4 linked regions of the Homo sapiens genome follow. The protein of the gene in region 2 purifies or fractionates together with the protein of the main gene of each other region. This does not show direct contact. Each region holds a gene or a part of one and is shown on either strand. Other genes may lie near its edges.

Region 1 (7,022 bases), on a different chromosome or scaffold from region 2:
CAGTGCTGGTTGTCGTGGGTGAAGCACGTGAGGCCTGGCATGCTGCACGTGTCGTTGTTCTGCAGGCGCTTGAGCAGCTTGCGGAGTTTCTTCTTGCGCTTCTGCTCCCGCAACAGCCACACCTTGTCCTTCTCTTGCAGGCCCTTCCTATGGGCGCAGAGGGCCACACACACCTTGGGCCTCTGAGGGATCAGTGACCCCATGTCTCTGCTCTTCCTGTCCACCTAAGGGCTTCGCTGAGGCTTCTCCAACAGAGAGCCATGGGCATAGCAATTCAGGGTCCCAAGTCCCAGTGCTGCTCCAAGGCAGAGCCGGGACCAGAACCTGGGTCTTGTCATTCTACTTTAACTCCCAAGGGGGCACAAGCTGGGGACAGAACCAGGCAGCTACTGGGACTCCTGTTGACACCCCTTTCCCCTCCTTCCTGTGTCCTGCCCTGCTTGGTGGAGTTGCGGTAACCCCATTTAGCCACAAGGGGGCGTCGGAGGCCCGCTCAGTGTTGATTGGGAAGTAAGGCCTCTTCGAGGGCTACCGTGGACTTCCCAGGGAAGGGCCTGGACTTCTTTCCTTTTCTTCTGAGTTTTAGCTTAAGGGAGGGCCACCTCCTCATGCAGGCCTCTGCATCTCTTCCCCAGGACCTCAAGCTGCTCTTACCTGAAAGGATGCAGACTGGAGCCTCTGTGCTTGAGGCGGCCTTTGTGCTGGGTGTGGTAGCTGTAACAGACCCCCCCAGCCCCAGGCTTCAGGAGTGGCTCAGAGGGCTCCGCTGGCAGGTGCAAGCTGTGATTTCTGGGACTCCCATGTGTTGCTGCTGCCCCACCCCTGTCCCTCCTTCTGGGGTGGTGGTGGGTAGGGCATGACCCTATCCTCAGGGCAGCAGGTGCCTGCCTGAGTGGCTTCTTTCTCCAAGCATGAGCCAGGACTCTGCCTGGACTTTTGCTAGACTTTAGCAGGTTGGGTTAATTGTAATTTAGCCACGACTAGAAGCTGGGCCTGGCTTTAGGTGCATCAGCCTCAGCATCCTTTTTCCTTTCTTTTTTGATGGTTAATTTTACATGTCAAAGCCTCAGCATCTTGAGGTTGGTTCCCTCACCACCCTGCCTACTCACACTTGGTCGGGGTCAACACAGGGAAGCCTGTGTTTTGCAACACTTTCTGGAAAGACAGCAGGGCTTCTACAGCTGTGCTGTCCAGTATGGTAGCCACTGGCCACAGGTGGCTACTTCAATTTGAATTAAGCAAAATAAAAAATTTGGCTCCTTAGTGACACTAGCCAAAATTTTAAGTATGCACCAGCCACGTGTGGTGTAGTGCAGATATAGCCCATTTCCGTCAGCACAGAATGTTCTATTAGAGCTGTTCTAGAGTTCAGTCCTTTGGGCCAGGGGACCCCTAAGCCGGGAACATGGACCTCAAACCACATGGGGGATTTCTGAAAGGGCAATCGGCAGAGGCACTTTTCCGGCCTGGAGCCGGCTCTGCGCAGCCAGCACGGGTCTCTTGCTAGCAGTACTGGAATCTGGGCGCCAGCCTGGCTGAGGAGCAGGTCCGTGTGCCACACTGGCTGACAACAGGGAGGTAAATTACGGATTTTTTTAATGCCATGAGGGGAGAAGATAAAGATAAAAATAAAAAATGAAAGGGGTCAATCACGAGAGGGGATGAACTGAACTGTCCTGTAGGAGAGTGGGGTCTTAGGGAGGTCCCTTTGCTACTGCCTCACCTGATTTTGTGACAGTCACATTCTTCTGGCCGCTTTTTCTTCAGGTGACCTCGGACTTCCCTCAGGTTCTTAATTTTGTTCTGCAGGGTTTCAATCTGAGGGAGGGGCAGAAGAGGAGGCCTTGAAACCTTCAAGGCTGGACAACAAAGACTTGGCCTGGTGACTGCCCCCACGCTGCCGTGTCTGTGCTCAGCAGCGGCAGCCTGCACTCCCCGGGCCCCAGGGCAAGCACCGGCATGTCTGGGTGGGGAGGAGGTACTTGTTCTGCCTGAAGGAAGCCCGCCTTCTCCTCCAGCCAGCCCTTGCAAGGGAACCGAGTCATTTTTCCGGCCTGGCCTGCGCAGGAACCCGCTGAGCCCACTGAGGCCTCCAGTGTCTCCCCTGGGTTTGATGAAAGGCCTCCTGTAGCGTAGACTTCTTGTAAGTCAAAAGGGGGACAACGTGGCTAAGCCATCGTCCCTCAGACGGCCTGGGCAGGAAGCTATCTGTCTCATGCTGGGACTGACACCTATCCCCGCGTTGAGGAATCTGTGGGGACCTCACTTCACCTCTCCAGCCTCTTCCCTGGGTCTGGCCTCACTGCCCTCCCACTGTGAACCGGGGGTCCTGCCAGGCCCGTGGTGGCCGAGAGCATGCTCCTCTCCCGCTCTCCACTCACCTCGTGGTCGATGTGCAGCTTGTGGTCTTTCCAGGCCTGCAGGGACTTGTACAGGTCCAGGTCACACTGGACTGTGTCGTTCTCTAGGATGTAGCACCTGCTTGAGAGAAGGGATCACGTGTGGCTCGGAGGTGGTGGAGGGGGAGCAGCCCAGGTGCCCAAGAGGTGTGGGAAGCCCTTGCCGAGGTCTGTCCTGTCCCCTTCACCCTCGACTTCCACCTGGACACTCACCGATGTGTCACTTTAATGGGGTTGGCGGCTGAATAGTCGGGAAGGCCTCCAGTGCCACTGAAGTCCCCACCATCCTTGTCATCTTGGTCCTCAGGGGCCCAAGAGGTGTGGGAAGCCCTTTGCCGAGGTCTGTCCTGTCCCCTTCACCCTCGACTTCCACCTGGACACTCACCGATGTGTCACTTTAATGGGGTTGGCGGCTGAGTAGTCGGGAAGGCCTCCAGTGCCACTGAAGTCCCCACCATCCTTGTCATCTTGGTCCTCAGGGGCCCCTGGCCAGTGCCGCTTGGTGAGGTTTCGGGGCTGGGCGGCATCACCCAGGCCTACGTGGTACACCCTGCCGTCCACCTCGATGGCCACTGAGCGGATGGAGCGACTGCGGACATAGCTGGCCTTGTACTCTGTGGGCATTAGAGGAGTGGCAGAGTTAGGGAGGCAGGAAAGGCTGGCCAGGCTCCCAGGGCAGTGGGTCCTTCATCAAGATAGGGCCGGGCTTCCAAGCATGAGGCTCAGCTTTGCCTGCGACTCGAGGGGTCGTGGAATCTACCCGCCTGCTCGCAGATCCTGGACCGCAGGGGAGGGCCTCGAGGTGATCACACCGGCAAGACGGAAGTCCTGGAGCCAAGAAGCCACTGACTCAAGAGGATTTCAAGCGAGAGCTGCTTGCGGGTAAACAAATGGCGGTACATCATCTGTACAACGGAATATGCGACCAGAACCAGGAGCGAGGTTCTGATTCACGCTAGAGCGTGGATGAATGTCAAAAGCAGGCGGAGTGAAACCAGCCAGACACAAAGCGGGCTCGTATTGTTACATTCTATTTATAGGAACTACCCAGAATAGGTAAATCTATAGCGGCAGAAAGAAGATTGGTGATTGCCAGGGGCTGGGGGAGAGGGTAGTGAGGAGTGACTGCTTTGTGGGTACGGGGTTCCCTTTTGGGGTGATGAAATGTTTTGGAACTAGGTAGAGGTGTGCAACACTGTGAACCTATTAAATGCCTCTGCATTGTATATAATTGTAAAAATGGTGAGTTTGATGTTATCTGAACTTCACCTCAATTAAAAAGGAAAAAAAGTATCATGGATGTAAAAATGTTGATTTAAACTGGGAAAAAGGGGCCCTGCAGTGCCTGTCTCTGGGTAGAAATGGACGGGGACTGGGGAAGCCACTTAGCTTCTTTGAGTCCCAGAGAGCTGGAGGCTGCCCACCAGGTGGTAGGCAGGTGCTACACCCAGGTGGGCCGGCAACAAGGCTGAGGGGGGCTTTTGCATACGCCCTGACGCTGAAAACTCAGGGGTGCAGGCTGAAGTGACACCCCAGGTAGCCTGTATCTTCTATGTCTCAAAAACAAATCTGAGTTGGTAACATTAAAGAAAAAGGGGAGGTGGTGGCGGTGATGTAGGGATCCAGATTTCCAGCTTCCAGAAAGGAAACAGATGTCTCACGGGCCCACAGTTCCATATGGTCAGGACGGGCCGGGGATGGGCGGCCCCTTTGGCTGCCCACTGTCTTCCCTGTTGGCCACAGCCCCCGCCACTCCTTCCTGTTTTAAAACCTCTGCCCACCTGACACATGTCTGGCCCCAGCAGGCACGCACTGCAGTTGTCATCCTTCTCCAGATGTGCCTCATTTAAAGAGAAGGGCCTGGAGCCAGTTAGTGACCCAGGTTTTGTTGGATCCCAAGTGACCCCGAGATGGTGACCAAAGAGGACCAGCTGGAGGCAGGTGGTGGCGGAAGGCAGTGGAAGGAGGGAGGAAAGGGCTCCCTTCTCACGTGGCCCGGGTGCCACCCCCACTCTTGGGGGATGTTTTGTATCTTTCAGTTCTCAGACACCTTGCATCAGAGTCACAAGGGCCGAAGGATCCTGAGGGGCCGGGAAAGGCCTCCCCTCTCCAGCAGAGCCTTGGGCCTTTTCTGACACAGGGCAGCCTTCTCCTGGGCACTTCTCTCCCTCGGTTTAGTCTCCCGATGCAAGTACACAAATTGCCGAGGATGGTCCCTGTGCCAAGCAGGTCCTGCCCCGAGAGGCTCAGGAAATAGACCCAGCGTGTCCTCTCCACTCCTTTTGTCTCAGTCGGCTCATAAGTGAGCTGCTTTGCCTCTTTCCACCCTCCATCTCCCAGCTCTAGATTCAGGGGTCCCTAAACCATGGCCTAAGGGCCCAGGCCAGCCTCCATCTGTCTTTGTGAATACAGTTTCACTGGGTACAGCTGCTCGCATTCCCTTATACCTCTGCAGTCGCAGGGCTGAGTTGCAAAGCCCAAGACCTTTACTCTCTGGCTCTTCACAGAAGCGGTATGCCAGCCCTGTGTGAATCCTTTCCTGGACTGAAGCCACACTACCTGCTCTCCCCATCACTCTGTGTTCATGTCCAGAGTCCTGGAGGTACCCTTCCTGCCACACCAACAGGGAATGGGACAGGACTTCATAACCCGGCGGCCAAGAGCTTTGACTCTGCAATCAGATGGCTCAGGTGCAAACCCCTGAGCACATGTGTGGCCCCGGCGATTTGGGTAACTTCTCAGGATGGTGCCTACCCTACAAAGGCTCCTTGGAGGATGGCACGAAACGGAACTAGTGAAGCATTCATGCCTGATGAGCTGGTGTGGACCAGCTACTGCAGGGGGTGGGGACTCTGCCTGCAGCTGACGTCCTCACCTAAGGTGACAACCCTGGGCCCACTCCCTGCCTCTCCACGCCGGTGACCGCCTGTGTGATGTGGCTGCCCATGCCCATGGTGCTTCTCACCACCCTCGGCCACACCGGTCACCTCTCTGTGACTGGGACTCACCGCCCTGATTCTGAGCACAGGGTCTTTGTACTCCATCTTCCTCCTCCTCAGAACACTTGCTCTCTGGCTGGTCACAAGACCTGCTCCTTTCTGTACTTTGTTCTCATTAAATGTCCATTGAGCGCCATTCTGGAGCCGCCACCCCTCTCTGCTAGTCCCGCCACCGCTGCGTCTCCTTCATGCGTTTTTCACCAGCGGAAGTGGCCCTTTGTTCACTTGTTCACATCTTGTTTCATCCATGAGGTCCAAGTCCGTGTCTCTCCAGGTCAACTCTAATCTCAGTGTCTTGCACAAAGTTCAAGAAATGAATGAACCCCAGTCAGCTGGGCCCATCCCCCGAGTCCTCGTCCCCTTCTCCTGTTCCTGGGTCCCCCTTCTGCTGTGAGCTGGCTGGCTCTGCCTAACCTCCCCACGCCACAGCCAGGATCCCCGTGGATCAAGGTGGGCCAGGGCTTCCCAACCTTACCACTGCGGACACTTTGGGGTCAGATCAAACTCTGTGGTGGGGGCCGTCCTGTGCGTTGCAAGATGTTTTGCCGCATCCATAGCCTCTGCTCACTAGACGCCAGCAGCACCCCTCCATCACACACAATTGTGACAGCCAAAACTGTCTCCAAACATTGCCAAGTGTCCCCTGGGGGACAGAAAGCCCCCAGTTCAGCCTGCTCTAGGCTGACTGCTCAGAAAAGAGGGACAGAGTGTCTTGTCGGAGACTCTAGCAGGGGGAAGAATGCCAGGCAGGAGATGGGGCTGGAGTCCCCAAATCAGCCACGTGACCCAGTCTTTCCTGTCCATCATCCCCTGATGATCACCCCTGCCCTGCTCACAGGGCTGTTGAGAGGTGCAGGTCCCGGCTCTGACATTACACTCACATGAGGATTCTGACCAGGGCTGAGCTGACTCTCAGCTACTTTTAGGTATTTTTCTTTCCTCTAAGCATTAATAAGGGGAAAAGAGCTGAATTTCTCCCTGCCAGATCTTGTATTATTTAAAGATTATCGACTGTGCCACATATTGAAGCAAGGAGATGCTGGCTGTGTAATCCAATCTGGAAACCAATCATTCTGTTCAGCTAGAAAAGTTAATGTAGTAGTTCCTAATCAGCTGGTGAGGAAATGTAACGGAGGGTCATCAGCTGGGAAACGGTGTTTCAGGCAGTGGCTGGGCTGTTATGGAGAGAGACTTATCTGCTCCACGATGAAGACATTTGCTGCCTGGCTGGCTGGACCAGAGGAGATCACTGCGCCTGCCGTCAGAGACCTCAATCTCTAACTAGTCTGTGGTACAATATCATCCGTCTTATAAAGAATGGAGACTTTTTGTTTTTTTTGAGACAGTCTTGCTCTGTCACCCAGGCTGGAGTGAAGTGGCATGATCTCAGTTCACTGCAACCTCCCGCTCCCAGGTTCAAGCCATTCTAGTGCCTCAGCCTCCTGAGTAGCAGGGACTACAGGCGCCCACCACCATGCCTGGCTAATTTTTGTATTTTTAGTAGACACGGGTTTCACCTTGTTGGCCAGACTGGTCTCGAACTTCTGAGCTCAGGCAATCCGCCTGCCTTGGCCTCCCGAAATGCTGGGATTACAGGCGTGAGCCACTGTGCCCGATCAGGAAG
Region 2 (7,022 bases):
ATCAAAGAGTGTGGTCTTGGAACCAACCCTAACCAAAATAAGAATGCCAAGGATGCAAATGGCAGCTCTGTATCTAGTATCTCCCACAGCTGGCTTGAAATAATAAATGTTCTCATTCCCTCCTCTTAGGTTGTGATTAGCCAGACTTACTACCATTTCAGAGTTCACACTAGTAACTGCAGAGATCCACTTGGAAGGAAATGACGTGGGCAGGTTAGAGTGGGTGGGCGGGAGAAGGGGCAGGAGGGAAGGGGGCAGGGGAGAGAGGGAGGAGGCAGCAGAGGTTCTGGGAGCCAGCGAGGGGCACAGGAAACATTAATAGTATTATAATAGGATGACACAGCCATGGTTATTATGTGGGGGTGTCTGACATAGCTGAAATTCCCTCAACTTTTTCTCCCCCTAAATAGTGTCAAAAGAGTGCCAGAAGTTAAAATACTACATTTATGCAAAGTGGCTTCTATTAAATCTGGTCCCCTTTACAGTTATTTTATAATATTTCCATATTTGTTTTAAAAGCCAAAAAACCTTTTACAGTGAAACACATCCCCGAGGAGAACTGAACACTCATCAGGGGCTAAATCTGGGCAGATAGCTGGCATGGTGAGGCAGAAGGCGGCCACCAAAGCGCCCCTTTCTCCGCCCAATTGTGACTCTCCCCTACCCCAATACAAGCAGGAGAACAGGGCAGACGAGTTTCAGCTTGCCCGAGTTTCAGCTTGCCCGAGTGGACAGAGCCCAGGGTCACAGGCAGGTCAGCTTTGAAGGAGAAACTCAAATGAAACATAAACATGGCATTGTGGAAACCAGACAAATCTCCCATGGCTTGTCCAGCCAGCATTAATCTCGGCATCAGCTGTGGTGCATAATCTAAACACACGGATCAGGCTGTTCATACATCTGGAAGCTGTCATCTTCTGGAACCTCTGAGCGGCATCCTATGTATCTGAAACACCCCATTACCCAACCTGTCCTCTCAACTTGGTGAAGGGTCAAGAATGGCAGACAGCAAAGAGATAGGGAGGATTCGCAGGGTCAACTGCCCTGTGTAGAAGACACCTGAGGGCTATTTGTTCTTTTTTAAACAATCATTGGTGGCTTCTCATTTCCAATCGTTTTTCTCCAAATATGAAAGAAATATCACAACTGCTTCCACCTAAATGTGCATACCCAGTAGTAGAAACTAATAAATACCTATAAACATATTCTCCCTTCTAAACCATGTATGGGGGTCCAGGGAGCAGAAAGGAGCTGCATTTTTCTTCCTGTCCCTTGTGAAATGCCCCCACAATGGCAACCCCAGAGAAAAGAAACCAGGTGCTCACTGTGGAAGGGCAGTGACAGCAGAATCCATTCTGCCCTTCTGGCTGGGACTGGTCCCTTGCTGTCCCTTGGTTCTGCTCCACAAGGGCTCCTGGGGGGACAAGGGGGAGTGGTTTGTGACAGAAACATCTGGAGGAGAATGAGACCACCAAGGAGTTCACACACTAGCCGGGCTTCTGAAGGAGCTGTTATTTCAATATGCACAAAGGCAGTGGTGTCTTCTATTAAAGCTTTTCAGAAAGTCAACCATGCTAAAAACCTTCAGGCTACTGGGGTTGAGGTGCAACCAGTCTTTCTGCAAATTTAGATACCCCCCACCAAAAGGTACCCAAATATAAATTATTTCTTTCTTCCATGGCCTCTTTCCTCTTTCGACCCATCACGGTGTTTTTCTTTGACATTTAATGTCATTCTAAGAAAAATAGTTATCTGGGTCTATAAATACAGGAATGGGATGGGGGAGTTATCTTAAAGAAGATTAATACTCTTGCATCTCTGCAATGCATTGTAGCCACAACTCCATCATAATAAACGTCTTCCATCTGCACAGCATGAGTCTTCCAATCAAAATCTTTTTATCATCTAAACCAGTGGGTCTCAATCGTGATGATTTGGGACACCCTCTCCCCCAGTGACATCTGGCAATGACTGGAAACATTCTGGTTGTCACAACTGGGAGGGTGCTACTGGCATCTAGTAGGTAGAAACCAGGATGCTGCTAAACATCTTATAGTGCACAGAACAGCCCCCAACAACAGAGGATGATCCAGCCCCAATGTCAATAGTCCTGAGGTTGAGGGACCTTGCTCCAAATTGAAGGAGTGGTGAAACTCAGTTATCTCCTACAACTGATTGCCTGAGTTCAAGAACACTGAAAGCATTAACACTAGCAAGGTACAAACTTGAAAGCACTTACACATACCAAGCATGTATTTTAAAAAACAATTTCTTCTATTTTTCTTAAAAAAAAAAAAAAGTCAAAGTCACAACTTGCCTCCTTCTTCCTTGACGCTGGCCTGCAGCAATGTTAACATCCAAACACCAAAGCAATATGGATTCATTACAAGGCTGCTGCCCTCTGCAGAAAAGGAGGCCAGGAGCTGGGCAAGCTTTTAGAAAAAACAAAAAGCTCAAAGAAATAAATGAATGTTCTATCGCTGGAGAAGCTTGACAAGAAACTTGTTCTGAGGGAGGGCTGCAGTGAGGGGGCTGATATGAAAAGAAATAGATACTGAGGGAGATGGGTTAAAACTGCTTAACAAAAAGGAAATACCAACAAAGAAACAGGCAAGATTAAAAATAACACCAGTCTGTGCCCAGAAAGGTGAGATCCAGGTGAAGCATTCGTGGCTCCAGGGAAAACACTAGAGGCCAACACGTGAGCACACTCGTGAGACAGGGATGGCTAGTAGGAAGAGCTGACAGCCCCCAGCCAAGCAGGGAGACTTCTGTGAAATGGCCCTGAGGGACGAGCCCAGCTTCCAGGCTCCCACCCAACCTCAACGACCCACAAAGGGAGGCTGCCCTCCAGGAGGCCACATTCCTGTTCTCTGAGCCTTTGCCTATGCTGTTCCTTCTGCCCTGAATGCCCCCTACCCTCTCCCCTCCAGCCCCTGTGCCTAGCTCAGGCCTCCACCCTTGAGGCCATCCTGGAAGATGTCCCCGATTTTCCTGCCATCTTGGCACTGCTGTCCTTCATGTTAACTACCCACACACCAGTCCGTGTACCTGCTGAATGTTTGGATGGAGTTCCCCTGAGGGCAGAGACTGTGGCTTTTCACCAACATCTCTCTGGAGAGCTTTCTGCAATGGTGGTGCAGAGTAGGTACTGAGAACATGTGCAGAATGAACGCTTCTATTTTTATACAATGACAATTAGTTTCTCCCCCACCTTGCTGCCATGGTCATGTGTTTCTGCAACAGCAGATGTCCACTACATCAGTCAACATATTCTCTATCAAACCTCATTACTCCGCACATATGTGAAACTGATTTGACAATTTTGATTAGCAAACACTATAACCCTAAAACTCAAGCTGGTATCTTAACATATAATTGACAGTTTATTAAAAGGCAATCATTATATGGACATTTTAACAACAGAATACAATAATTCTTATCACCAATTCCTACACACGCACACACACGCGCATGCACACACACGGACTCTTTCTCATCTAGCATATATTAGTCTGCACATTGTGGCTGATGTATTCTGCCCTCTTTATAAAGCCAACTCTTTATAAAGCCACATTTCCCCAGCATGTTAAACAAAGCATGAAAGTCAATTTGAAGACACAGCCTTTCGAGTGGATCCCTTTAATTTGCTGGCTGTATTAAAAAGATAACATTAACATGCCTTTGGCAGATAGGAGGATATGCAGAATAAGACAATGTGCATACACACACACGCTCCTGTGATTTTAAACCGCAGGAGAAGGAGCTTCTTCCAAACTATCCCTCAGCATCCCTCTCCCCTTAAAATCTCATACTTTCCTCTCTTCTGTTGTTTTCTAACTAGGGCAATATGCTACCTCTATCCATTTCGTTTGTGTAGCAAGCACTCTGTTGATGCCCAGTTCATATAAAAATTCATGTCTAGAACCTTAAGAACAACCTACCAAGAAAGCAGCATCTAACAGATTTCTTTGCTGATAGTGATGAGGAATTTATCTATGAGACTGATGCACAAAATGAACTTAAATGTGGAGCTATTACTCACTTCAATTCACGGACGTCCACTGAGGTATAGGACAGCAGGGAAATCTTACTCCTGAATGCAAATGCTCACACTACTTACTGCTGACGTGAACACTCAGCTCACTCTGTCACAAACAAGATCTCTACACAATCACTTCTGCTTTGAAAATGAAATTAAATCTATATGGCTACTGTTGTATAGTCACCTCTCTAGTTGGGTCTATCTGCATTTATGAAACTGTCGCTTCTTCTCTAGGGGGAGAATCTAGCACAGAATGAATGAATGAATGAATGAATGAGAGATCAAGGACAGGGCAACAGAACAAGTGACTTATGTCATTAGTAGGCAAAGTAGACCTGGAGACAAACAGACAACCCATAGTTTCCCATCTGTAAAATGGGACAATCCTCATCATAAAGACATTACATCCACTATCATGTTATAAAAACAAAATAGGGCCGGGCGCGGTGGCTCACGCCTGTAATCCCAGCACTTTGGGAGGCCGAGGCGGGTGGATCATGAGGTCAGGAGATCGAGACCATCCTGGCTAACAAGGTGAAACCCCGTCTCTACTAAAAATACAAAAAATTAGCCGGGCGCGGTGGCGGGCGCCTGTAGTCCCAGCTACTCGGGAGGCTGAGGCAGGAGAATGGCGTGAACCCAGGAAGTGGAGCTTGCAGTGAGCCGAGATTGCGCCACTGCAGTCCGCAGTCTGGCCTGGGCGACAGAGCGAGACTCCGTCTCAAAAAAAAAAAAAAAAAAAAAAAAAAAAAAAAAAAAAAAAAAGATAATAATAGCTATTTTATTGAATCGTAAGGCATGCGATAATATATAACAAATGCCTGGTACATGGCAGTTGCTCAACAAGTGACAGTATTAGTACTGAGTAAATAACATTTGGCCCAAGACCAGTGAGTCATGCTGAAACTGCCAAAAGTAAGCAAAGTGAGTGTGCCCCTCAGAAGTGTCCTCATCCAGTCCATTGAAAAAGAAAAACTTTACTCCCTCTCACTACACAACTGGCAGCTCCCATAAAACTGCTAGGAAGCACACTGCATCTCCTTCCAGGACTTGAAATGGGTCGTGTTATGCAGAAAGCAAGTTATTTCCAGAAATATGCAATGTTAAGAAAATAAATCACATTCTATCTCCTTCAACATGTCAAAGGTCCACTGAAAACTCTTGCTAAGAACACCACAAAATCACGTTTTGTCATCCTCATCCGATGGCAACAAATACAGGTTGGATCAAGTGGTGGATGAGCCGGCCCTCCCTGTGCTCATGCCCTATTCTGTCCAAGAATCTACGGCAGCGGCCCTCCCTGTCCTCATGCCCTATTCTGTCCTAGAATCTACGGCAGCGCCCCTACAGTCTAGCCAATCACATCACTTCCAAACTCCTCAGCTGGGGCCCCTGCTGGTGTCCCGCCCATGCCTAAAATGCCCTCCTTCCCCTACCGTCTCCAGTTCTCTCCCCCCACCCCCTACCACCCTCTTGTAACTTTCACAGCCCATTTCAGCTGTGAACCCAAATGTAGTCCAAATGCATCGAATTCTAATAGTTTTAAATTGTGCAGTGTCGCACACACTTGAGTCTCTTATGGTGCTTAACACAGTGCTAGGGACATCATAGGTGCTCAAGAAACTTGTTGCTAGGAGCATAATAGCTGCTCGATAAAACCCTTCTTTTATCTACCAGTGATACTGAATCGCTGAACTGAGGTAAATTACTCCATGGATTCAATCCAAAGAACGCTTTTGTATTAATTACCAAACTACTTAAGGCAGGAATGTTTTGTCTTAATTATGTAGACTATTATTTTAATTGTCACTTCTCAACTAAATACTCCAACTCCACCCCAGGCTTGCAAAACTCTGCAAGCTGAATCTTCACAAACAAGGAGAGATTAAGGAAATATTCTTCAAGGTCTCCAACAGCATCCTGAAAGGGATCACTGAAGCGATTATGCGCATAACTCTTCAGCTTCCACATGCTGTCCGGAGGAATGCTCCAGGTATTTTGGTTTGAATTATCTACCTAGTCACCTCTACCCTCCCCTACTACCCTCTTGTAAGGTAAGGGATGCCCAAAGTGGTGTTTAGGGTTAAAGTGTTTCCAAATAGCAGGATTTGGAACTTGCCAAAAAGATAAATAAGAAACCAGCGGGGGAAAAAAATTGAAACCTTTGTCACCAAAATAATGTAAAAATGTTTGTCTTCGAAAAAATATATATCTATTTTAAATCTGCAACTGCTTTGCTAAGGTCTCAAGAACCCCAAAACTGAGGAACGTGGATAAAAGACTGGCAGAACCCCTCTGAGAGGTCCCTTCAACCCCGCGTTCTTAAAACATTTCTTTTCTTTGCCTGCAAAATGCAGCCTTCCCCCAGAATAATTCCATGTAAAAAGCCCCCACCCGCGAGGAAACATTAATCTACTTTGCAAACATGCGTTCCAGTCTGTGCCTTACTATTTTTTTTTCCACTCCTTCCACCCCCACCCCGCGTTTTTTGTACCTTGAGACAAATGTTTTTTTCCCTCAGAGTTGAAAGCTGTCCAAAAACAGGACCACACACGCCGCCGCCTCCGCAGCCCCGCGCTGCGCCCGCCCCCGGCCCTCCCCAGCGCGGCGGCCGCGGCCGCCGGGGGCGCGCACACTCCAGCCAGCCGGAGGGGTGGCCTCTGGCTCTCCCCGACTCCTTTTTCTTTGGACGCGGTGGGTGGGGGTGGGGGAGAGAAGAAAGCCGGGCCGCGGAGCGGGGCCGGGAGAGGCCAGCCCCGGGGCGCCTCTCGGGGCGCGGCCCAGGCGGACAGCGGCAGCGGCGGCGGGCCCGGGGCCCCCGGCGCGCAGAGTGGTCCGTCCCGGAGGGGCCCCGCGCCCCCGTCCCGCCCCCGCCGCTCTCTCCCACCACACCTCGGCCGGCGCAGCGCCCCGAGTAGATTACAGCGCGGCCTTTGTCGGGCGGGCCTGGCTCCCGGCCAGGCGCCCAAACAATAAA
Region 3 (7,108 bases), on a different chromosome or scaffold from region 2:
TGTCTACAGGGAAAAGCCCCAGCTGGTCATGTTCTGGGAGCCAAAGGGTCCCTGTTCGCTTCCTCCTCCTGTGCCCTGTTCAGCACTGCGCCCCCACCCCATACTCAACCGCGCCCCCACCCCGTACTCAACTGTGCCCCCACCCCGTACTCAACTGTGCCCCCACCCCGTACTCAACTGTGCCCCCACCCCATACTCAACTGTTCCCCCACCCCGTACTCAACTGTGCCCCCACCCCATACTCAACTGTGCCCCCACCCCGTACTCAACTGTACCTGTCTCCCATTCTTCTCTGAAATATCTTTAAAGTTTCTAAACAGTTACAGAAACCACCACCTTAACAGCAGGAAGTAATAAGTTGGAGAGTCAATTATCTCCAGGCACATCTGTGGGCCAGGGCTGGAGAACCACAGTCCCGCCTGCAGCCACAGACCCACTAAGCAAGTGTGAAACTAACAGCTACTCTCCGAAAAGAAAGACAACTTAAGAATCGAAACTCAAGATGTACGGTTTTTTTAAATGACAAACAAGCCGCATGTGTTTCAGTATCATCAATAACCCGTCTTTTCCCACTGATGGCTCCTTCAGCCCCTGACCCACACTAGAAGAGAATCACCTGCCAGCCTCAATGACTGTGCGTAGTCAAGGAACTGCACGCCCAAGGTCAGCCAACCAACGGGCCTCTCTTCAGCTCTGGATCCCTTCCCACTGGGGTTCCTGGGGATTCCCTCCTTGTACAGGCTGTCTCTTCTCCACCAGGTCACATCTCCTCCAGGATGGCCACCAATACCGCCAACTCTGCAGGTCTAAAACCCACGTGTGTTTGTGTGGCCCTTCCTCTCCCACCTGGCCGCAGCGCTCCTCATCGCAGGTGAGAAGTCCCGGCTGCCCTCGCTGTTACAGGTCGCCACATCTCACAAAGCGCCACCGCCCAGTGGATTTGGCAACATCTTTCAGCTCCATGCCCGCCCCCACTCTCTCACTGCCCCAGACCCACGCCCCACAAGGCTACTCAACTCAGCTCCACTGCCCAGAGGCAAAACCCACCTCCCATATTCTCACCACGACCACTTTTCTGAAACACATCTAATCGCGTCGCACCCAAACCACCACCAAAGGGATAAAAGTTTAAACTCCCTCACACAGCATTCAGGCCCCTGCACAATCAGAAACCCATCTTTCCAGTCTTTTTTTTACTCTGTTGCCCAGGCTGGAGTGCAGAGGCCCAGTGTCGGCTCACTGCAACTTCCGCCTCCAGGTTCAAGCTATTCTCTTGACTCATCCTCCTAAGTAGCTGGGACTTCAGGTGTGCACCACCACGCCCAGCTAAATTTTGTATTTTTAGTAGAGATGGGGTTTCACCATGTTGGCCAGGCTGGTCTCGGACTCCTGACCTCAGGTGATCCGCCCGCCTCTGCCTCCCAAAGTGCTGGGATTACAGTCACGAGCCACCTCGCCCGGCCTTCCAGTCTTAGCTTCCAACCCAATCCTCAAACCCCACTTCATCAAGAACACGGCGACCCACCATCTCCCCCAAACATCACTTTCACTTCCACATCTCTGCATGCCCTTTGCCTCCAAACGCCCCAATTCATAGGTCCTCTCCACTGTGGAAAATGTCGGAAAATGTCGCCACATTCTGTTAACGCCTGCACCACAGTCTCAACTCCACACAGTTGTAGCCAGGCTGGCCGTGAGCTCCCAGGGCAAGGCCCACGCTATTACCGGCATCTACCCCAGCTTAGCATCTTGCACTCGATTGGAGGTTTGATAATAAAGCTGGAGTCAGCTGAGTGACAGCAGACAGTTACTGCTGGCCCCAAAGCGTCAGCCCAAAGTCCCATAAACTCCTTTGCAGGGAAATCAAACATCTATGCCATTCCAGGCAGGTGCTCTTTCAGATCTCAAGCGTTGCACCTTCGTGTAGCAATCTCCTCATTACCCCTGTTTTCTCTCCATCCTCACTCAGACACCAGCCCTGACTCCCAACACCAGATGCTCACGGTGAGGGGCTAACCCGGGTCCCCGCGTGGGGGTAAGTGGGGGACCCGCTGAGCTGTCCCCAACCACCCACAGCCGGGAACAGCACCGTAGGGCCTGGTGTCCTGGAAGATGTACTGCGTCCAGCACCGCGCCTGCAACTCACATTCCTATTCACCCCGGGGCTTCCGAGTCCCCACAGCCCCGCTTATGAACTAAATAATTTAATAATGCTGGAAACACTATGGCTTGTTGTGCTGCCTGCCAGACGGAGCCTCTGCCCGAGCCAAGGCTTTGCCGGCGGTGTCTCGGTGGCCGGGAGCCCGCAGAGGAGGTCTAAGTCCCACTGTTCCCGGACTAAATGCACGGTTTCCTCTCCCAGAGGGGCAGGGCTGCGGCTTCTGGAGTGAGAGGTCATTTAAGGGATACCCTGAGCGACCTGCCGGTGCTGCTGGCGTCTGCAGGCTCCAGGGCTGCGGTCGGCGGGGCCGGGGAGCCCCGTTCAGGTGACAGCAGGCACACGGGGGCCCTCGGGAGCTGGGGATCCTGGAACTCCAAGCCCGGGAATTGGTCCTACCCCTGCCGGGCGGCAGAGGCTGATGCCGGGCAGGGGGACTCCTGGGGGCCGGCGGGGCCGCTGCAGCCTCTGCTGTCGCTGAATCAGAACCACAGATTTCTCGTCCAGACCCCGAGGAGCCGCAGAACGCGCTGATCAGGGCCCCAGGGCTGGGTCCCCCTGGCCGAGGACGACGAGCGGGGCTCAGAGAGGGCGCGCGCAGGGCCAAGGTCACACTGCGCGCCGGCGCGGGAACTCGAACCCAGGCCCAAGCCGCGCCCGCCAGGCCAGGTTAAGGAGAGCCGACCCGCGCCCCTCAGCGCGGCCCGGGACCCCCGCCCGGGCCCTGGGAGCCCAGCACTGGCCGAGAGAGAGGGAGACCGCGCCCCGAGCCCGCCGCCCGCCGCGCCCCTCACCTCGCGACCCTCACCTCGCGCCCCTCACCTCGCGCCCGCAGCCGCCGCCGCCGCCCCGCGACTAGCGGACCCCCCAGAGGCAGCCCTCGCCGGCCCCGCCCCCGGCGCAGGAGCCCCTCCTACCGGTCGTCTTCTCGCGAGACGTCGCGGCCGCCGGAGGGGCCACGGAGGCCGAGGGGCGCCCGCCCTCAGCGCGCCTGCGCCCGGCCAGCCCGCCCGCCCCCGCCCTCGCGAGCCAGTGCCATGTGGCGCCGTATTTACGGCCAGAGATCGACTCCGCCCACCGGCCGCCACGAGCCACGCCCCTTTCTCAGCAGCCAATCCGCGGCGTTGACTCCGCCCCGGCGGACCGGGCGCGCGGCGGCTCGGGGACGCGCAGCTGTCTCGCCGTTCGACCCGGGAGCTCCACGTTGCAGCCAAACACGATCCCGTTAACCAACCTTTATGCAGTGCCTGTTGTCTATCCGACCCTTTCTCGAGCATCGGCTCATTGGCAAAGGATCGTGATGCTCACCGGCTGGGGCTTGAGACTCGCTGTGTGACCTTGGGCAAGTGACTTAACCTCTCTGAGGTTGTCGCCAATCCGTAAAATATAATAGGTTAGTGACCCTACCTTTCAGGGAGTATGTGAGACAAACGAGATGACACGGGTAAAGAGCTTAGCAAGATGCCTAATGCATAGTGAGCATGCAGTAATTGTTCTTGGCATCAATGTAGTTTTGTGTGTTTGTTTGTTTATTTTTTTAGAGACAGGATCTCACCGTGTCGTCCAGGATGGGGTGCAGCGGTGCAGTCACAGCTCACTGCAGCCTCGACCTCCTGGGTTCAAGCCATCCTCCCACCTCAGCCTCCCAAGTAGATGGAACTACAGACAGGTGCCACCACACCCGGCTAATTTTTAATTTTTAATAGAAACGGGGGTCTCACTATGTTGCCCAGGGTGGTCTTGAACCCCTAGACTCAAGCAATCCTCCTGCCTCAGCCTCCCAGAGCTCTGGGATTACAGGCGTGAGCCACCGCGCCAGGCCCAGTCATTTTTTTTTTAAATTATGGTAAAATATATAGAACATAAAATTTACCATCTTAACCTTTGTTGTTGTTGTTGTTGTTGTTGTTGTCGTTGTTGTTGTTGTTGAGACAGAGTCTCGCTCTGTCGCCCAGGCTGGAATACAGTGGCCCGATCTCGGCTCACTGCAAGCTCCGCCTCCCGGGTTCACGCCATTCTCCTGCCTCAGCCTCCCGGGTAGCTGGGACTTACAGGCGCCCGCCACCACGCCCGGCTAATTTTTTGTATTTTTAGTAGAGACGGGGTTTCACCGTGTTAGCCAGGATGGTCTCGAACTCCTGACCTCGTGATCCGCCCGCCTCGGCCTCCCAAAGTGCTGGGATTACAGGCGTGAGCCGCCGCGCCCGGCCCATCTTAACCATTTTTAAGCACTCCCTGCAGTGGCATTAAGCACTTTCACATCCCCACCATCCACCCCAAGAACTTTTTCAATCCGTGATATTTTTAGTTGGCCCCCTCCGATGGACTCCCGAGGCAGCCTTCCAACCAAGGTCATCTCTTCACTCTTCCACTCCCTGCAGCCAGTCCCAAAGGAGTTCCGAACCCACCGGGCCCTGGAAATGTGGAAGTGAGGGAGACGGGCAAGGCCCCTGCCCTCCTGTATTCTAGTGGGGGGGAAAAGCAACAAACAACCACCACAAAATATATGTGTATATTATATACACACTCACAGTAGATAATATGTTTATACGTATGTGTAATGCATACATGTTACCTATGTGTATGTATGTAGTATATATGTTTATATATTGTACACATACATATAGACCTGTATTATGCATGTATAATATGTCTATGTTGTATACATACATATATGCAATTGCACGTATGTAAATAAGGTGACAGCCTCTGGCAATGTCACCCTGTGATGCCTGTCTCAGCTTAGAAATTTCTCACTATCAGCCGTGTGCAGTGGCTCACACCTGTAATCCCAGCACTGTGGGAGGCCGAAGTGGGTGGATCACTTGAGGTCAGGAGTTCAAGACCAGCCTGGCCAACGTGGTGAAACCTGTCTCTACTAAAAATAAAAATACAAAAATTAGCCAGGCTTGGTGGCGGGCGCCTGCAATCCCAGCCACTCAGGAGGCTGAGGTGGGAGAATCGCTTAAGCCTGAGAGGTCAGCTGGGCTTGTTGGCTCACGCCTGTGATCCCAGTGCTTTGGGAGGTGTAGGCGGGCAGATCACGAGATCAGGAATTCGAGACCAGCCTGGCCAACACATGATGAAACCCTGTCTCTACTAAAAATACAAAAAATTAGCCGGGTGTGGTGGCAGGCACCTGTAATCCCAGTTAGGAGGCTGAGGCAGGAGAATCGCTTGAACGCAGGGGCTGGAGGTTGCAGTGAGCCGAGACCGCGCCAGTGAACTGTAGCCTGGGCAACAAAGTGAGACTCCGTCTCAGACAAACAAACAAAAAACCTGAGAGGTGGAGGCTGGAAGCGGAGATCATGCCACTGCACCCCAGCCTGGGTGACAGAGTGAGACTCTGTCTCAAAAATAATAAATAAATAAATAAATAAGTAAAATGGTTACTTTTGTGTTATGTCAACTTCACCTCTTACATCAGCAACATTTTGAATACACTAAAGACCCCTGAATTGTTCATTTTAAAATGGTTACTTTCTGCCCGGAGCGGTGGCTCACGCCTGTAGTCCCAGCACTTTGGGAGGCCGAGGCGGGCTGATCACGAGGTCAGGAGATGGAGACCATCCTGGCTAACGCAGAGAAACCCCATCTCTACTAAAAATACAAAAAATTAGCTGGGCATAGTGGCAGGCGCCTGTAGTCCCAGCTACTCAGGAGGCTGAGGCAGGAGAATCCGTGAACCTGGGAGGGAGAGCTTGCAGTGAGCCCAGATCGTGTCACTGCACTCCAGCCTGGGCGACAGAGCGAGACTCCGTCTCAAAAAAATAATAATAAAAAAATAAAAATAAATAAAATGGTTACTTTTATGTTATGTTAATTTCACCTCTTACGTCAGCAGCATTGCGAATGCACTAAATGCTCCTGAATTGTTCACTTTCAAATGGTTACTTTTACTTTATGGCAACTTCGCCTCTTACATCAGCAACATGCAGATACATTTTACTTACCCACTCTGCAGTGGCTATACCTTATCTCCTGGTTTACAGATAAGGAAGCAGGGGACCAGAGAAGGTAACCAACTAGCCAGAGACACAGAGCTGTGTAAGTGACAGAGCCAGGACCTGAATCCAAATTGTGGACCCCAAAGATGGAGCCACGCTACAGCCTTGAGACTTCCTGGGCCAGGGCCTCAGCTCGGCCCTGGAGACACCTCACTGTGATGATTTTTATCTCCTCCTCTTCTAGGCTCCAGGCTCCTTCTGGCTGGCTGCCCATCCCCCTCCCCAGCAGCTCCATTGGCTGCCACCCATCTTCAGGGACCCTGGGCCCCTCTGCAAAGTCTGTGGTCTCCCCGGAGCTGACCACAGCCTGGCCCAACCTCTGGGTTTTACTTTGAGGTATTTCAGTGTCTCTACCAGCAACAACTATTTCTGGTTTCATAGCCAGGGTTGCAACAAAGGAAAAGCGGTAACTGTGGCTTCTGGGCAAGAGGCCAGCCAGGAAACATTAGCTGCTACTGATAGTAACAGCTATGGAATTCCGGGAGGTTTTTTTGTTTTTGGTTTGTTTGTTTTTTTTTCTTTTTCTTTTTTTCTTTTTTTAGAGACAAGGTCTTGCTCTGTCACCCAAGCTGGAGTGTGCAATGGTGCCATCATGGCTTACTATAGCCTCAGCCTCCTGGGCTCAACTCCCTGAGTAGCTGGGACTACAGGTGCACACCACCATGCCTTGCTAATTTCTTTAGTTTTTTTGTAGAGATGGAGGTCTCGCTACGTTGGCCACGCTGCTGCGGGGAGATCCTGATGACCTCTGGCCCTGGGATCCATATAAGCATCATTAACAGGATATGAAAACAAAACAAAACAAGGTCTGTGAATTGAAAATTCAATTAACCATGTAGATGATATGAAAATCCAAGAGGGGCCAGGCACAGTGGCTCACACCTATAATCCTAGAACTTTGGGAGGCTGAGGCGGGCAGATCACCTGAGGTCAGGAGTTGAAG
Region 4 (7,903 bases), on a different chromosome or scaffold from region 2:
ATTTATCCCATGTGCCCTGGTACTGTGCTGAGAGGGTTAGGCCATCAATTTAGAATTACAAAACCACTGCCCTTTAGAGCTACAAGAACCCTTAGAAATGATTTCCTCCAACTCTTTATTTCATAAAAGAGGTCTGGAGAGGCAGTGTGAGCTCTCACAGGCAGCCAGGATTAAAATGGCAGAATGTTGGCTCTCAGTCCAGGGCTCCTTCTCCTCCCTTATCCACAGCTCAAGGGCTGCTCTCCCTCACAAAGCAAAGATAAGGCTCAGAGAATTATGCAGCCCCAGAACATTTCCCAGGAGCTAAACGAAGGCATTTCTTCTCATACACAAGCTTCCCAGATCCCACCCAGCCTGCACCCTCACCCAGCACTGCCCCCTCACCCAGCCCTGCTGTCCAGTGATGAGACCCTAAAGAGGCGACAGGGCTTGCCTGGGCTGCCTCTTCCTAACACCTCCTCCCCTGAACTCACTCAGGGACTGTCCCCTACAGCTTCACCATGCATCCAACACCAGCCACAGAGAGGAAACACACAGCCAGGCTGCAGGGTCCTGCCTCTGACCCACTTGGTGCGGGAAGACTCCCTGCTGCAAGACTGGAGGCTGCCCCAGGTCATAACTGGGCTTCAAGAATGCAAGAACAGCAAGGACGATGGGCAGCAGAGAAGGAGAATTACATGGCACCAGTTCTGGAGCTGGAGATGCCAGGATATGAATTCCCATCCCTGTCACTTAGCAGCTAAGTGACCTTAGGCCAATTCTTTACCTCTCCAAGCCTTCACTTCCTGGCTTGAAAAACACAATTATACCTACTTCACAGGGTAGTTTTGTGAATTCAAAGAGACAGCAAAGGCAAAACACCATGTCTGACAATTATTTTTCTAATATTATTATTAATCGTAATGGTAAAATAACTCCTGTTCACTGGCTTTCACTCTCAGCCAGGCACAGTGCTAACTGTTTTACACGCATTATCTCATTTATTCCCCACTACCTGAAGTAAATGCTATTAATTCAATTTCACATTTAAGAAGGTATGCTTAGAGGCATTAAGTGAATTGCCCAGTGATACACAGCAATTAAGTAGAGGGGTTAGGATTCAAAACCAAGACGGACTCCAAAGCCCGTGATGACATTTGCAGGTTCCACCTTTCACATTCATTATTTCATCCAATTTAAGAAACCCTGGGAATCACGTGATTGGTAGGTCCTGGGGGGAAAGTATCCCACTGACAACCAAGCTGAGATTGGCAAGGACCCTTGGAATGGGGGATTTGGTAATCTAATTTTCTAGTTAGTGCAATATTTACTAGAAGGCTTTGTTTATTGCTAAATATTTTCTAAAGCAAGGCTCAGAGCAAGAACTTGCCAACTAGCATGCTTACATGGCCACGGTGGGCCCAGCCACCAGCACCATGCCCTCCTTTCTGCTGAAGATCTCCACTCTCCTTCTCGTTCTCGCAGGGGCCCAAGGCTCAGGAAGGAACGTGCTGACCACCCCTGGGGATGAGGGGACCTATGCTCTTTCCTAGCTCTGCAGGGACTGAGATTCCTCAAAATTAATATTGAAAGGATGAGCTGGAAGATCTGCAAGATTCATGAGAGCCAGAGAGGGCAGCTAGTACCATTAAAGATGAACCTGGACTCCAAGCACCTCTAACACTTTCTGTCGTTAGTCACCACGACTGCTGATATTTGCCACACACTTACTGTTAGACATACTGGGCTGAGGACTTGCCTGGCACTATTTCATCCCCACTGCAACCCCGTGATAAAGGCACTGTACTTTCATCTCCACTTCACAGAGAAAGAAACAGAGGCTAAGAGAGGATAAGTGACTTGCTTAAACGCACACCGCTAGTAGCCGAGAACCAAGATTTGAAGGCGGGGCACATATTGTAGTAAACATTTGGTGAATGAAACCTCCTCTGTCTATGCTCTTAGCTACTAAGTCCTATCAAGCTCGCCCCATAACCCTGAAGTCATCCTTTTCCACGCGGAGCCTTGCTTCTCCCAAGAGTACGCTCTAAGTGTTGGCTGGCAATAAAGTAGGCAGACACTGGTCGCCCTGCACCTGGTGCAAGACTCTGGCCTGACGGTCACATACTTTAGCAGAGAGTTCCCATCAGTGAGCTGGAGACGGGTTCCTAAACACACACATGGAGTCAGGAGTTCACTGGGTTCCTTCTTCAGAGGCTACTCTGGCACTGCCAAGCAGGCCGTGGCAAGCTCTTACCACCGGACACACATGGTAGGTGCCCTACTGGCCCCCAAAGCGCCCAGGAATCAGCTGCAGGCCTGCCGGGGTTCTGCCTTCAAAGGCAGTTGGGGAGGCCCAGGCCCGCTCCGCGCACCTCGCGTGGCTCCCCACCACCCCCGCCAAATGTGCACCACCCATCACCTCCCAAAGCAAAAGGGCCTGAGGACCCGACGCCAGTGCCTGCCACGAGCTGAGGGCTCGAACTGGCAAGCCCCAGGGCGTTGCCCAGGTCCCCGGCCCCCGGCCCCCGACCCCCAATCCCCGGCCCCCGACCCTGAGGGTCCACCCCCGCCCCGCCCACCTCCCGCGCCTCCCTCAGCTCGCTTCACACGTCACCCCTCAGTTCTGCAAACTCTCCTGGATCCCGAAGGCGTCCTAGAACCTCCCCCTCACCCCGGGGCCCAGCACCGCGTCGTCCCCTCCAGGGGGCCGAGGGTTCGACACCTCCACTTCAAGTCCCAGGCGGGTGTCGGAGTCCGCTCCAGCCCCAAGCGCGCGCGCGTCTTACCTGAAGCCTGGACTCCGCGGGACGAAGCCACCTCCGCCGACGCGTCCAGGAGGCCCCACGGCGGCGCCGCTTTCCCACCCCGCCGCCGCCCCCAGCGCCAGCTTCTGGCCCAGGAGGCCCAGAAGGCCCAGGCAGCCAGCACAGGTTTGGCCGCGCCGCCGGGTTCGCAGCGACCGCCACCTCCAGGCTCGCAGGTGTCCGCCGTGCGCCTGCCCGGCGGGCGAGCCCGGCGCGGAGCCTGTGCGCCTGCGCAGAGCCGCGAGTTCGGTTGCCCTGGCCCCGGCCACAACCTTGGCTCGCGGAATCCTGGGAGGTGTAGTTTTGCGTACGAGGACAGCCCGCGCCGCCACCAGCCTGCGGAATGTTGGGAGTGATAATTTGCGCCGAGAGGCTGAGTTTTACTTAGTGTTAGGATTACACAGTTATGGCAGTTCTGATAATAAATTTAAATGCAAGTTTAACCAACAACCAAATGTCATTGTAAAGTCAAGGTAATTAATACGTTTACATGCTTTTAAAAATTGTAATGCTACAGAGAACTTACAAAAGCACCAGTCCTCTGCGGCACCATTCCATTAACCAGCTGTCACCTTATCCCACCGTCCAGTCCTGGCTGTCCAGTCCTCAAGGGCAGCTACTTATGGCTGTGGCATCTGGCATTCCCGCGGATTCTCCGAATATACATATGCCCCTATTTCTTGAGTTATGAATTTTAGATCTTTTGACTTCTTTTTTAGATCTCTTGACTTTTTTTGAACTTAAGTCATCTAGAGATGCACCTACCACCACCAACTCCACCTCCATAGAGTTATAAGATTTCTACCTATCAAATTGGGAAAGCCCTGACTTTAATTTATGATTATTTTAAATTAGCCCAAATGTTAAGGTATTAAGTTGGTAAATTTTTGCAGGGCAATTTGTCAATACAGCCAAAAACCTTTAAAAACATGTAGTCAAAAGCCTCTAACCAAGAAATTCTAATAATTGTGGATGACTGCAAAGGCTGAATAGTGTTGTTTAGATGATAATAAACTGAAAGGCTGAAGTGGTGATATTACTTTCAGAGAGAGTAGAATTGACAGCAAGGAAAATTACCAAGAATAAAAAAGGGATAATTATATAATGATAAAAGGTTCAATTCACCAAGAAGACATAATTCTAAATGTGGATACACCTAACGACATAGCCTTAACATAAATAAATCAAATGATAGAACCATAATTAGAAATAGACAACTCTGCAACTGTAATTGGAAACTTCAGCATCCCTCTCTCAACAACTGATAGAACACTAGACAGAAAGTCAGCAAGGATATAGAAAAGATCAACACTAATACCATCCTAATCTAATTGATATTTACATAATACTTCACCCACCAACAGAATACACATTCTTTTCAAGCAACCTTGGTATATATATTAAGATAAACTGTATCCTGGATCATAAGTTTTTAAATATACAGAAGACATTAATATATATTTTACCAAAGTAGTTATACAGATGGCAAATAAGGACAGATGTTCATCACTAGCCATAAAGGAAATGCAAATTAAGACTATGCTGAGATATCACCATACACCTATTTAAAACAGCTTAAAAAGGCAGGGCGCGGTGGCTCATGCCTGTAATGCCAGCACTTTGGGAGGCCATGGCTGGCGAATCACGAGGTCAGGAGTTCAAGACCAGCCTGGCCAACATGGTGAAACCTCGTCTCTACTAAAAATACAAAAATTAGCTGGATGTGTTGGTGCGCGTCTGTAAACCCGGCTACTCAGGAGGCTGAGGCAGGGGAGAATCACTTGAACCCAGGAGGCGGAGGTTGCAGTGAACCGAGATCGCGCCACTGCACTCCAGTCTGGGCTACAGAGCAAGACTCCATCTCAAAAACAAACAAACAACAACAACAACTACAAAACAGCTTAAAAAATAAAATAGCAAATGCTGGTGAGTATGCACAGAACTGGATCTCTCATATATTACTCACAGATGGGTATATCATGGTAGTTTCTTTTAAAAAACTAAACATATGCTTCCCATATGACTCATCAATCACACTCCTGAGCATCTATTCCAGAGAAATGGAAACTTATGTTAACACACAAACTTGTACACAATTGTTCCTACTTTCTTTATTTGTAATTGTCAAAAACTGTCAACAAACAAAATGCCCCTCGATAGGTGAATGGTTAAATAAACTGTGATTACATCTATATAAAGAATATCATTCAACAATAGAAAGGCACAATTGACACATGCCACAACTTGGGCATTATGCTGGGTGAAAAAAAGTCAGTCTCAAAAGGTTACATACTCTGGTTGCCATTTGTATAACATTCTTGAAATGACAAAACTATAGAGATGGAGAAAATATTAGTGGTTGTCAGAGGTTGAAGACAGGGTGTAGGTGTGAATATATAAGGGTAACAGAAGGGAAGCCTTTGTACTGATGAAATAGTTCTTTGTCTTGATTGTGGTAGTGGTTACACAAATCTACACATGTGATAAAATGACTAAAACTACACACAAACTTTCTATCAAGGTTAAATTCCTGATTTTTATATTGTATTATAATTACGTACAATGTAACCATTGGGGGAAACTGGATGAAGAGATTCCTCTCTGTACTATCTTATTATAGATTTTCACAAATCTATAATTATTTCAAGATAAAAAGTAGGAAAAAAAACAAATTTGGAAACTGCTTAATTCCTCAGTCATGCAGGATTAAGTAAAATCACAGATCATCTCAGAAATCATTGAAAAGATGCTGCAAAATAGTATTTACTTAATAGAGTGGAAGACATTTCACATTATATCATATTTAATGAAAAAAGTATAAAATATTCCATAAGATCCCATTTTTAAAAAGAATATATTTGTGCACAGTAACAGCACAGAGCACAGAAGGATATCAGCAAAATTTCAATGAGCCATGACCCAGGGTGGTAAGACTATGGGTGTTTTTTTATTGTCATCTTGCTGGTTACCTGTATGAATTTATTCTGAAGTGAACATATATTGTTTTGTTATTTTAAATATAAGTTGTTTAAAAAACTTCTAAGTTTTAAAAAGCTCCTATGTTGAGTTTATGGGTCTCTATAAGATAGCCAGTCATAGTCACTGATAGAAAGAGGCACCTAACAGTCCAAGAGAGCAGCCCCTTGCTGGAGGTGGACAGGGATTGGGTTCTGGCCAAAGCTGAATCTCCTGGATAGGATCTAACAGGATGGCCTGTAAGTCACCTAGGACCCAGTTTGCAGACACTGATCATCTTTGAGTCCATCATGTTTTGAAAACTATTCTGGCTGTGGAGCATTGCTGGTAGGAAGCTTTAGTAGACTGGAAAAAACTAGTACATTTCTTTTTATTAAATATCCAAGGTGGCTTAGGTAGCTGGCTTTTTGAGGTCTTTCCCAGCATTTTAAATCCATATTCATGCATGCCAAGCTGAGTTAGGCATTCCTCAAGTCCAAGCCCTCTCCCTTTGTCTGGGGTCATATTCCCTTTCTATTTCTCTGTGTGGATGCCTTCCAAACCCACATCTCTAGCCCTGAATTCCAGATCCACATTCCCAATCCAAGTTGCTTGGGGCATACACACCTCCACCTGGCTGGCCTGCTAGGATCTTAAAATCTGCATGATGAACATGGTGGTGATGGTAAAGATTGGGATGGTTTTTAAATATGTCTGCAAATTATTTGACTATTTTTCCTTTGAAAGGGGGAGTCTAGTTCCCTTCCCTCAAATATGGGCATAACTTAGTAACTCACTTCAATGAACAGAAAATGTCAGAAGTGATGCTATGTGACTTCTGAAACTGGGTCATAAAAGTGGTACATCCTCTCTCTGTCTCTCTCTGGTTGCCTTGGGAACAGATTCACCATGTTGTGAGGAAGCTCAGGTTACATGGATAGGACCTGCATGAGTGTATTAATGTGTTAGAGCTGCCATACCAAAATTTCAGACTGGGCAGCTTAAAAAACAGAGATTTACTTCTCACCGTTCTGGAGGTTGGAAGTCCAAGATCGAGGTGTCAGCAGGGTTGGTGTCTTCTGAGGCCTCTCTCCATAGCTTGAGGATGGCCGCCTTCTTACTGAGCCCCCACATGCCTTTTCCCTATGGATGCCCATCCTTGGTGTCTCTTGTGTGTCCCAATCTCCTCTTCTTATGAGTATACCAGTCAGATTGGATTATGGCCTAACCCAAAAATGAGCCTAATCACCTCATTTTAACCCAATTACCTCTCAAAGGCCATATCTCCAAGTACAGTCATGTTCTGACGTATTGAAGGTTTGGGCTTCCGCATATGAATTCGAGGGCAGGGGGATACCATTCAGTCCATAACAATGGGTATACCAGCCAGCAGCCCCAGCTAGGCTTTCAACTGACAACCAATATATATTGCCAGATATATGAGCGAATGAGCCCTCAGATGACTCCAGCCCTGATATGGTTTGGCTCTGTGTCCCCGCCTAAATCTCAGGGTGAATTGCAGTCCCCAATGTTGTGAGAAGGACCAGGTTGGAGGTAATTGGATCATGGGGGCAGATTTCCCCCTTGCTGTTCTCATGATAGTGAGTGAGATCTCACGAGACCTGATGGTTTAAAAGTGTGTGGCACTTCCTGCTTTGCAAGCTCTCTCTCCTGTCACCATGTGAATATGTGCTTGCTCCCCCTTCACTTTCCATTATGATTGTAAGTTTCCTGAGGCCTCCCCAGCCGTGCTTCCTGTACGGCCTGCAGAACTGTGAGTCAATTAGGCCTCTTTTCTTCATACATTACCCAGTCTCAGGTAGTTCTTTATAGAGGTGCAAGAACAGACTAATACAAGCCCATAGCTTTCAAGCCACCTTAGCTGATACCCTGAACATCACAGCAAAGTTAATCTGTCCCTGTTGTGCTTTATCTAAATTTTTGACCCACAGAAACCACAATAAATAATCAATGATTTTAGTTATTTTTGAGCCACTAGGTTTTCAAATCTGATTATGTAACATCAGATAATGAATATTATCATCCCATATTAGTTATCTACTGCTGCATAAAAAATCACCCCAAAACTTAGTGGCATAAAACAACAATGATCATTTGTTATGTCTCACCATTTGTTTGGGTCCAAAATCTGCAAGTGACCT

What was found.
Region 1: the proteins of PTCH1 (region 2) and SULF2 purify together in Homo sapiens (affinity purification with mass spectrometry; 3 studies listed by BioGRID and IntAct, with this or other methods). This does not show direct contact.
Region 3: the proteins of PTCH1 (region 2) and CHST12 purify together in Homo sapiens (affinity purification with mass spectrometry; 3 studies listed by BioGRID and IntAct, with this or other methods). This does not show direct contact.
Region 4: the proteins of PTCH1 (region 2) and POMGNT2 purify together in Homo sapiens (affinity purification with mass spectrometry; 3 studies listed by BioGRID and IntAct, with this or other methods). This does not show direct contact.

The regions. Positions count from the first base shown.
Region 1 is NC_000020.11:47,663,476-47,670,497, forward strand, and holds part of SULF2 (extracellular sulfatase Sulf-2 isoform a precursor), read right to left. Parts: intron 3,014-7,022; coding exon 2,785-3,013; intron 2,683-2,784; coding exon of another isoform or gene 2,613-2,682; intron 2,482-2,612; coding exon of another isoform or gene 2,479-2,481; coding exon 2,382-2,478; intron 1,819-2,381; coding exon 1,724-1,818; intron 715-1,723; coding exon 655-714; intron 148-654; coding exon 1-147. UniProt on the Homo sapiens protein: Exhibits arylsulfatase activity and highly specific endoglucosamine-6-sulfatase activity. It can remove sulfate from the C-6 position of glucosamine within specific subregions of intact heparin.
Region 2 is NC_000009.12:95,499,255-95,506,276, forward strand, and holds part of PTCH1 (protein patched homolog 1), read right to left. Parts: intron 1-7,022.
Region 3 is NC_000007.14:2,399,518-2,406,625, reverse strand, and holds the start of CHST12 (carbohydrate sulfotransferase 12), read right to left. Parts: upstream 3,016-7,108; 5' UTR 2,953-3,015; exon of another isoform or gene 1,596-2,952; coding exon of another isoform or gene 1,526-1,595; intron 1-1,525. UniProt on the Homo sapiens protein: Catalyzes the transfer of sulfate to position 4 of the N-acetylgalactosamine (GalNAc) residue of chondroitin and desulfated dermatan sulfate.
Region 4 is NC_000003.12:43,103,068-43,110,970, forward strand, and holds the start of POMGNT2 (protein O-linked-mannose beta-1,4-N-acetylglucosaminyltransferase 2), read right to left. Parts: upstream 3,013-7,903; 5' UTR 2,769-3,012; intron 1-2,768. UniProt on the Homo sapiens protein: O-linked mannose beta-1,4-N-acetylglucosaminyltransferase that transfers UDP-N-acetyl-D-glucosamine to the 4-position of the mannose to generate N-acetyl-D-glucosamine-beta-1,4-O-D-mannosylprotein.